Regions from separate parts of the Homo sapiens genome. Here region 2 is linked to region 1. The links come from fine-mapping of genetic effects on gene expression. Tissue or cell type: tibial artery. Region 1 holds a variant in brackets; the other region holds the start of a gene. All regions are shown on one strand. Distances are from middle to middle.

The links. PIP is the estimated chance that this variant, and not a neighbour inherited with it, causes the effect.
Region 2: CNNM3 starts here. The variant in region 1 is fine-mapped to the expression of CNNM3 in tibial artery (GTEx, PIP 0.96).

Annotation. Positions count from the first base shown.
Region 1 is chr2:96,615,455-96,620,600 of GRCh38, reverse strand. KANSL3 (KAT8 regulatory NSL complex subunit 3) reads left to right here. Exons shown (of 21, transcript NM_001115016.3): 4 at 839-929; 5 at 1,057-1,242. Among named protein-coding and RNA genes, the nearest start is that of KANSL3, 20 kb to the left of the region's middle. The variant A/G (reference allele first, on the strand shown) is at 2,662.
Region 2 is chr2:96,813,821-96,818,966 of GRCh38, reverse strand. CNNM3 (cyclin and CBS domain divalent metal cation transport mediator 3) reads right to left here and starts at 2,699. Exons shown (of 8, transcript NM_017623.5): 1 at 1,465-2,699. The coding sequence starts at 2,689. RefSeq lists silencers at 1,843-1,952, 1,963-2,102, 2,113-3,092 and an enhancer at 3,433-3,552.

The DNA of each region.
Region 1 (5,146 bases):
ATTAAGATTGCTGGGAGTGGGGTGAAGGGGGACAATAATAAGCTCCATATCACTAAACTGGGTGTGATGAGGTGGAGATAAGAACAGTAGGATAGATGTCTGCAACACACAAAGCCTCAGTAAGTAATAGGTAAGCAATAAGCAATAAGGTAGATGTGTGAATACCAGTGCCGTATGCTGGGATGATAACATATTAGCTTATATGGAGCAGGCCTCTCAAAAATAAATTTGCTAATTGTGTGGCATATAGAAAAAATACAAAAAATATATATGGAAAAGAGAGATTAGTGTGGGGTAGAATATTGAGGAGTGGAAGAATAGCCTCTTTATTGGTTATATTTCTGCTATATTTTTGTTCTTAAGCCTAGTTTAAATAGAATTCTTACCTCAGTCTGAGATTTTAGTACATTAAAATGCTTGCTGATCCTGTCTGCCTTTTTGTGTGAAATATAAAACTTATGAAATTCAAATATGTCGTCTGTTCAGTGGTGCTGTGCGTTTATTTATGATTGGAATAATTTTAGCTACTAAGTAAGTAATTAGCTTTGCTAGCCTGAAAGACTTTTTTCATGACTAGTCTTGACTTGTACTGTGTATATTATTGTGTGTATGTGTGTATTATTAATACAAGTGTGTGCTGTGACGATTTGATTTGGTAGGATTGAGACCAGAAGAATCTAGGTCTTGTGTTTTAGGTCAGTGGTCTTAGACTAAGCTACTTCGTTTTACTGTTCCCTAGCAGAGACATAAAACTATGGCATAATCTTCTTTATATGGTGTACATACATGGGGAGCGTCCCCAGGGTTTGACTATAATTCCTCAGAGTTTCCCTTATAGGACTGGCTGGACAATGGCCCAGAACAAGCTATTCAACAAGATCCTCAAAGCCCTGCAGTCTGACCGGCTTGCCCGCTTGGCCAACGAAGGGGTAAGACACCAGCAATCCGCCCACAGTGGGCTCTTCGTAGTTCAGGCCTCACTGGCTGACTGACTTGTCCCCCTGCTTGTTAACCAGGTAGTCCTCATGTTTTATTACTTCCACTTACATCCTTCAGGCTTGTAATGAGCCAGTGCTGCGCCGTGTTGCTGTGGACAAGTGTGCAAGGAGAGTGCGGCAGGCTCTGGCAAGTGTGAGCTGGGATACCAAGCTGATCCAGTGGCTGCACACCACCCTTGTGGAGACCTTGAGTCTGCCCATGCTGGCAGCCTACCTGGATGCTTTGCAGACGCTGAAGGGGAAGGTAAGGCTGTGATTGGGGTCTGCCCTGTCCTAGGGATAGCCATCCTCCCCTGTGGGTTCAGGATGTGGGGTTAGGCAAAGTAATTATCTGGTCGGTCTGGAGTGCATGGCCAAAACTAATGGGTTTGGTACTAAAATTGGGAGACAGGGTATCATTTCACATTTGTGTCTGGTGTAAACGTTTTCAGCCCTGCTGGCTCCAGGATGAGGTATGGGGCCTGAAAACCAGAGTATACATTTAGCCTTCCTAGCCTTGCAGCTTGTGGTTTGAGTCATGGCTGAATTGAATTATCATGAAGGAGACGAAGGGTTTACCAGGGAAGAGTTTGTTGAGAAAGGTGACAGAAGCAGACCCTTGGTGCTCGGAGCACTGGGAGATTGCAGAGCAGGAACGTGCCGTGATGCCTTCAATTCTGCTCCCCAGGGCATGAGCCTTTAGTAGCAACACTTAGACTTTTATAATTCAGTACAAACATATCATTATAGTTCCCTGCTTTCTTACTTAGTATTGCACAAAGTTAAACTGTTTTTCTTGGTGATTCCAGTGATTGCATCAGGCTATCGTCAATGTGGTAGAATGCGGATGCTGGAGGCAGATTGCCTGGCTGATCTCAGCTTTGTTACTGATTAGCTGTGTAAGCTTGGACTGGTGTCTCATCTCTAAAATGTGGCTGATAATAATAGCTATCTAGGATTTTTATGAAAATTAAATTAGTTAATTCAGGTAGGGGGCTTAACACAAAATTGGGCACATAGTAAGCAGTGAGCCCACAGTAATTATTATTACTAATATTAACAGTTATTTAAGTAGTACCCTCATAGGTTCTTGAAATATTTGGGGTGTTTTGCTCCAATACAAAATGGCCTCACGGCCGGGCATAGTAGCTCATGCCTATTATCCTAGCACTTCGGGAGGCTGAGGCAGGAGGATCGCTTTAGCTCAGGAGTTTGAGACCAGCCTGAGCAACATAGCAAGACCTTGTCTCTACTAAAAATAAAATAATTAGCCAGGCATGGTGGCACACGTCTGTAGTCCCAGCTAGTTAGGAGGCTGGTGGGAGGAGGCTGTAGTGAGTTCAGTCCCACCACTGCACTCCAGCCTGGGTGACAGAGGGAGTCCCTGTCTCTAAGAAAGAGAGAGAGAGAGAAGAGAAAGAACCAAATCAATCCAAGTTGTCTGAGGCCTTTTTTTTTTTTCTTTGGAGACAGGATCTTCCTCTCTCACTCAGGCTGGAGTGCAGTGGCACTATCATTGCTTGCTATAACTTCGAACTCCTGGGCTCAAGCAATCCGTCTGCCTCAGCCTCCCAAGTACTGGGACTAGAGGTGTGTGCTACCACCACACCCAGCAAAGAAATTTTTTTTTTTTTTTTTTTTGAGACAAAGTCTCACTCTGTCGCCCAGGCTGGAATGCAGTGGC[A/G]CGATCTCGGCTCACTGCAACTTCTGCCTCCTGGGTTGAAGCAATTCTGCCTCAGCCTCCTGAGTAGCTGAGACTACAGGCGTGTGCCACCCCGCCCAGCTAATTTTTTTTGTATTTTTAGTAGAGATAGGGTTTCACCATGTCTCGATCTCCTGACCTCGTGATCCGCCCGCCTCGGCCTCCCAAAGTGCTGGGATTACAGGCGTGAGCTGCCGTGCCCTGCCACACCCAGCTAAATTTTTAATTTTTTTGTAGAGACGGTCTTGCTATAGGCTCGTCTTGAATTCCTGGCCTCAAGCAGTCCTCCCATCTTGTCCTCCCAAATTGCTGGGATTACAGGCATAAGCATGATTCAGTTTTTGACACTTTTTTTTTTTTTTTTAATAGTTTTACTTTCTGCTTCACAGGAAGCTGGCTCATCTTGCTGCTGTAAGTTGCCTGGCCAACACGTTCCCTCAGCCACATCCCCAAAACTTGCAGACTCATTGTTTCTTATGTGTTTTTAAGTTAAAGGGTGCCAAGTTTGTTAGAAGACTGGTTTAGTGCTGAAATAAAACTCAGGACTAGATACATTAATGATATTCATGGTAGGAAATTTGACACTAGTTTTTTTGTTTAACTAATACTTATTTTGGGCCCTACGTGTGTCAGGTACTGGGGTGAGCAAAACAAAACTGGTCCCTTCTCTGGTGGAGTGTATTTTCTAGTGAAGAAAGAGACAAATGAAAAGGGAGTCCCAGACTTTCCCCTGTACTGCTCCCCTGTAGTAGAAACCCTGGACCCGGGAGGTGAGTGGTGGGCAGGTAGAGTGTGGGGCCCAGACTGGATCCTGGCAGACAGAGAGTGGTGGCCCAGAAGTATCGTAGGCATCTTCACATATGTTCTCCTCAGCATTCTACCTACGGTAAAAGTGTAACATTGGTGAATACACTGTAGGAGATGAGTGTTGGTAGTGGCCAGGGTCTCAGTTCTCTGGTGACCCTGCTTCACTCACTGTGGCTAGCATAATTTCCCTTTAAGGAGGAATTTGTACTGCTGCCCTATTTAAGTTACTGACTGGACATCTCCTGGGTGCATGTCGGATATTATGAGCATGGCAGACCACTGGGGGGACTCCATAGCATGCATAGTTGGGTGTTTTCCTCCCATGCTGCTGGGCCACGGTGTGGGTTGACTGGAATAGTGGAAGGCTCGCTGGTACACCAGTCAGCAAGGGCCTCAGACTCAAGGCAACATCCTCTCTGGGCTGTGCTCTCCGCAGTGGTTCCTCTGCCATCGGACTCTTATTTTCCCATGACTATATTTAGATTCACAACAAATACTTTGGTTGTTTCCCAAAGGATATAAATGATTATAGGATTGTTTTACTTTTAAAGTGCCTGCTGGATGTGAAAGCGCAGGTGGATGGGATCATGCTCTTCACCCAGCTACTTTCACTATTAGATCCATTATGATAAAGAGGGCAGAGAAGGTATAGACCTTAGCCTTTTAATTGGCTGTTGAGAGTGAATGCAATGCTGGAAGGGCCAGGGAAGCTTGGTCTTCCCAGCTCCAAGTGGAAAAGTCAGTATTGATTTTTTATCCCTTGTTGACAGGAAGCAAGTGTCAAGGCTTTTTGGTTTCAAAGCTATATACTACTGTTAGATAAAGCTTAACCCAGGGTCACATCCTTTGCCTCAAAGTGTTGAGTGGCTCACAGTTCTAGAGTGAGTTACAAAGAACATGAAGATCCTTTGCAGTTTGGTCTTATCCTTTGCGGTTTGGTCCTATCCTTCCTACTGGCTTTTTACATCCTCCTCCTTCCTTACTTGCATCCTTGACTTTTGTCCATCTGTGCCTGGAATAAGCTCTACACATTCTTGCCTCTTGCTGGTGTCTCTGATGGGAAGGCTTTTCTCTCATCTTCTGTTGGAATCCTGCCTGTTCCAAAGAGCCTGTCTCATTTCACATGCTGTATCTTTAGATGAAAATTGCCTCTTAACTTCTTCTCCATTGGGTGGTTTGAATCATAGCAGTTTGGGCTTCTGTTTCTTTCATGGCAGTTATCGGTCTTTCCCTATTCCTGTCCCCCACCATTATTTGTGTGTTTGTCTTCCTTACCTCTTGTAGATTAAATTCCTCTGCAGTACTAGCCTGGTACCTTGTAAAAGCAGTTGCACGAATATTTCTTTCCTGAGTTAAACTGAGAAAGTCTAATGGTTATAATTCTCTAATTTCTCATACAGAAATCCTTTTAGTGTCCCTGTTTTTAAATTAAGAGCAACTTATCTTCTGCTATTTTTGGAGTTTTACAACTTGCATCAAACCGTAGTACTTTTTATTCTCCAATTTTTCAAAACCTTTTTCTTTCTCTGAAAACTGCCTCTAATATTTAAACATTTTTCCTTTCCCCTAGGTCATTTTGACCTTTTGTGGGTAGCATGGAATTCGCAGATATTTCTTCTCAGTGTAAGCATCAACATGTCTGAAACCTATATTTGCACAT
Region 2 (5,146 bases), 200 kb before region 1:
AGTAGCGGTCATTATCACAAAGCCTGGCTTCCTGCAACGACAGGCCAGGGGCTCTCAACAGACGGTGCCAGAAACATCCTGCCACAAATACCAGGGGGCTTTGCCACTTCTTGGCCTTACAGCTGGCAGCCTTTAGGGTCAAGTCCATCCAACACCCTGGGGTGCTCCCACCCTCACCCTACAGGAGTGCAGGTGTGAGAAGCATGGCTGTTAACCAAGGTCTGAGCACCAAACTCTGGGGAGCACCACTAAGGATGATGTTGGAGAGGACTGCAGAAGAAACCACACCTTCACATCCGGAGGGTACTGGTTTTACCTTCAATCTCCGAACTGCTCAGCTAAAACAGTGAAGGGAGGGATGAAAATGTGGAGTTAAGGGAGAACTTGAGACCTTAGGGTTAGAAAAGAAGAGGTGAGGCTGGGCGCGGTGGCTCACGCCTGTAATCCCAACACTTTGGGAGGCCAAGGTGGGAGGATCACTTGAGGTCAGGAGTTCGAGACCAGGCTGGGCAAAATAGTGAGACCCTGTCTCTACATAAAATTTTAAAAAACAGGAGATTAAAAAGCAAAAAAAAAAAAAAAAGGGCCGGGCACAGTGGCTCACGCCTGCAATCACAGCACTTTGGGAGGGCGAGGCAAGTGGATCACCTGGTCAGGAGTTCAAGACCAGCTTGGTCAACGTGGTGAAACCCCATCTTTACTAAAAATACAAAAATTAGCCCGGAATGGTGGGGTGCATCTGTAGTCCCAGCTACTCGAAGGCTGAGGCAGGAGAACTGCTTGAACCTGGGAGGCGAAAGTTGCAGTGATAAGAGATCGGCCACTGCACTCCAGCCTGCGCGACAGAGCTGGGAGAAAGGGAGACTAAGTCAGCATAAATGGAGTTACTTTTGGTGAAAGCAAAGTGTTAAGTTTCCCTGACTTTACCGCAGATAAGGGATTGACACCTAAATACCCTTATCTGCAGTAACGCCAGGGACCTTAAGAATGCTCTGAAGGAAACATTACAGGTCCAGTCAATTTGATATTACATGTGTGCACACAACAATATCCCAGATACCTGGAGACTACCATCTTTTCTATGTTCTTCTAGTTTCTATCCAAAAATTTGGACCTGCTACAAAGTCAAGCACACAGAAACACTCTGGGAGAGGGAAAGAGCTGGGGGATTAGAGGACAAGCGGACATACCCCTCCCTGCAAATGGGGGGGGGGGGCTATCCTGACGCGGGGGTTAAAGTGTTCGCTGTCTAAAGGATTCCTCCCACTCTGATCGATGGCCTTTAAGTATTTCAAAAGGTCATTCCAAGCTGCAAGGCCAATACCGTCTTGAAAAGGGACCTTAGAGGTCTCACTGCTCTCCACAGGGGTGGGACCCTTTCCAGAAGGCTTCCATAACTCTCCACCCCTTTTCAGGGAGAGGGCACTCGCACGGGCGTCCCCTGCACCATGCCCGGGCCGTTACCTCGCTTGAATTCCTCCAGGACAGCGTCCAGCTTGGTGTCGTTGAAGACGAAGTGGAGCGGATGGTTGTAGAAACGAGTGATGGTGCTGAGCGGCGTGCAGTCTTCGGGATCCACGAAGGCCAAGTCCTTGAGGTAGAGCATGTCCACGATGTTGGAGCGCTCCTCCTCGTACACCGGGATGCGCGTGTGGCCGCTCTGCATGATGCTGGCCAGGACGCCGAAGTCCAGCACGGTGCTGGCGTCCAGCATGAAGCAGTCTTCGAGGGGCGTGAGCACGTCCTCCACGGTCCGGCAGCGCAGCACGCCCTTGCTGAGATCGCTGTAGGGGTCGCCGCCGCCGCGCGCCAGCTCCAGCACCCGCTCCCGCAGCCGCCCGGGCCGCGCCGCCAGCTCCAGCAGCTGCCCCACGGGCAGCGCGACGGGCAGAGTGAGCAGGACGGCCAGGCGGCTGAGGCCGAGCGCTCGCGGCGCCAGCGCCAGCGTCCAGCGCCCGCTCACGGCGGCCGGCACCACCTCTCCCACCAGGAACACGAGCCCCGCGCTGCCCAACACGGCGGGCACCGCACGCTGGCCGGCCGCGCGGTACAGCAGCACCGCCAGCGCCGCCTGCGCCAGGCTGGCCAGCAGCAGCAGCGCGCCCAAGGCGCAGCCGGCCCAGCGCCGCGCGGGCTCCAAACGCCGCGCCGCCGCACGCTCCGCCTCCGAGCCGCTCTCGCGCAGCACCTGCACCTCGGCAGGCGCCAGCGCCAGCGCGCTCAGCTGCAGGCCTCGCGCCAGCGCTGCCAGCGCCAGCAGCCCGGCCGCCCCCAGGCCCAGAGCCCAGGGCGGCGCCGCCTCCTCAGCCGCCCCGCCACCCGGCTCCACGCGCACCGCCAGCAGCGCCGAGTGCGGGCGCACGGCCTCGGCCCGCAGGCGCAAGCGCAGCAGCGCGCGCCACTCGCCCGCGGGGGAGGCCGCCTCCTCCCGGCAGCCCGCCCCCTCCGGGGCCACCCAGGACCAAGAGCTGTTGGCGAAGCCCGGGCCGAAGAGGCGCAGGAGGAAGGTGGCGTCCGGCGTGTCCCGCGCCGCCCCTCCGCGTACCCAACCCGCGCCCGCCGCTCCATCCTCCTCCAGGCAGAAGCCCAGCACTCGCGGGCCCGGCGCGGCCTCCCCCGCGGCGTTGCCCAGGCAGAGCGCGGCGAACAACCAGCCTAACCGACCCGCCGCAGCTACCGCCGCCGCCATCGCCTGCTGCCCCCTCTCGGCCTCTCGCGCAGCCTACCCCGCTCGCCCCGCGCCTCCCCGGGCCAATCGTTACGGCTCTTCGCGCCTCCTCGGCCAATAGGCGGTGGGCGGGGGCGGGCCCCAGGGTCGGACTAGGCTGCGCCGGGGAGTAAACAAGTGGCGGCCAGGGGCGGGCCGGGGGCGTGGGGCTCCGGGCCCCGCCGAGTCTGCTGCGGCTCCGGATGCGCGGGGTGGCAGTGGCCGGGAGGACGCGGGGCGGCGGGCAGGGCCTCCCAAGCCCGGCTGTCCTCGGCCCGTGCGCGGCGCCCGGAGTCCCACTCCTCCCGATGCTGTCCCCCGCGCCCGGAGGCCGAGCCAATTCTCTGGGAAGTTCCCGGCTTGGGAGCGGAGCGGCCGGTCGGAAGAACCTCGGGTGCTGGCGCGCCTGAAGTTGCAGACCAGACTGAAATGTGCGAGACATGTGCCTTTTTCTTAGGAAAGGCCCCAGGTACCAGAAAGGTTTTCAGCGCGCCGACCTACGGGGCTAAGAGGGCTGAAATAAGAACCAGTGACTGAGCGCCGGGAGGTTTAAGGTTTATGGAAGATGTTCATCGCGCCGTACCCTACTAGAGGTTTGGGGACGTGGGACACAGCCCCTGCGTTCCCGCCGCGGACCCCGTGATAAATACACAGACACACAAAATCACTACCGCCTTGAATCTGGACAGCTACCTCAGGTGGTTAATATCTAACAGGAGCAGAGTGGAGCTCAGAAAGACTCAGCGTGGGTGCTGGGTTCCGGCGCGACCAGCCTGATACCTAGGTCAGCATCTCAGCCACACAAGCAGGCGGCAGTTCTGTCAGGAATTACTACATCTGGTGATTCCACTTCTCATAGCTCACCGCTGGGAGAATAATTCCTCAGGATTAACAAGATCTATTCCAGAGGATCCTCACTGCTGAAGCGATTTTAGAAGACAGTGTGGTCTGTTGACAGTATGGAATATTCTTTACCCATCAGATATGATCTGTATGTGATTGGAAGGAAATAAACCAACTGCTAACAACACTTCTCTATAGATGTTCAGATTCAGTAATTTTTGTATTTTTCTCTACACTTTTGTTTTTTCAAATTTCCTAGCACAAGAAGACTTTGACTTACTGCACATGTCATTTTAAATGACCTTTATAAAGACTCTATAGAAACAATTTGCTATGTCATGAAAGTAACAATCAAAAAAAGTATGCACATTGTGGCCACAAAGTAAAACTTGTGTGGAAGGTAATGTGCAAAAAAAAAAAAAAATGAGTAAGCTGGTGGTGAGTGACCAAAGGAAAAGGCTTTGTAAAAAACTTTTTTTTTTTTTTTTGAGACGGAGTCTCGCTCTGTCACCCAGGCTGGAGTGCAGTGACGCAGTCTCGGCTCACTGCAAGCTCCGCCTCCCGGGTTCACGCCATTCTCCTGCCTCAGCCTCTCCGAGTAGCTGGGACTACAGGCGCCCGCCACCACGCCCGGCTAATTTTTTTGTATTTTTAGTAGAGACGGGGTTTCACCGTGGTCTCGATCTCCTGACCTCGTGATCCACCCACCTTGGCCTCCCAAAGTGCTGGGATTACAAGCGTGAGCCACCGCGCCCGGCCTGTAAAAAACTTTTTAAAAGATGGTAATAGCTGGCCGGGCACGGTGGCTCACGCCTGTAATCCCAGCACTTTGGGAGGCGGAGGCGGGCGGATCACGAGGTCAGGAGATCGAGACCATCCGGACTAACATGGTGAAACCCCATCTGTACTAAAAATACAAAAAATTAGCCAGGTGTGGTGGCGTGCACCTGTAGTCCCAGCTACTCGGGAGGCTGAGGCAGGAGAATGGTGTGAACCCGGGAGGCGGAGCTTGCAGTGAGCTGAGACCACGCCACTGCACTCCAGCCTGGGCGACAGAGCAAGACTATGTCTCAAAAAAAAAAAAATGGTAATAGTGGCCCGGCGCGGTGGCTCATGCCTGTAATCCCAGCACTTTGGGAGGCTAAGGCGGGCACATCACGAGGTCAGAAGATGGAGACCATCCTGGCTAACACGGTGAAACCCCGTCTCTACGAAAAATACAAAAAATTAGCCGGGCTTGGTGGCGGGTGCCTGTAGTCCCAACTACTGAGGAGGCTGCGGCAGGAGAATCGCTTGAACCCGGGAGGCAGTCGGAGGTTGCAGTGAGCCAAGATCGCACCACTGCACTCCAGCCTGGGTGACAGAGCGAGACTCCATCTCAAAAAAAAAAAGGTAATAGTGTATTTTTAAAAGATGGTAATAGTGTCTCTTCTGCATTGTAAACTCAGAGCTGTGACTAGGCCAATGGGGCATCTCCGTGTTTTTTATTATTCAGGTGATGTTCTGTGCCCTTTGAGTTTACCTTACTTTTGCAGATTACAGAGTAAGCCGCCAGCAGAAGCAATAAAGACATTACTGGGCCTTTGCACTGCAACA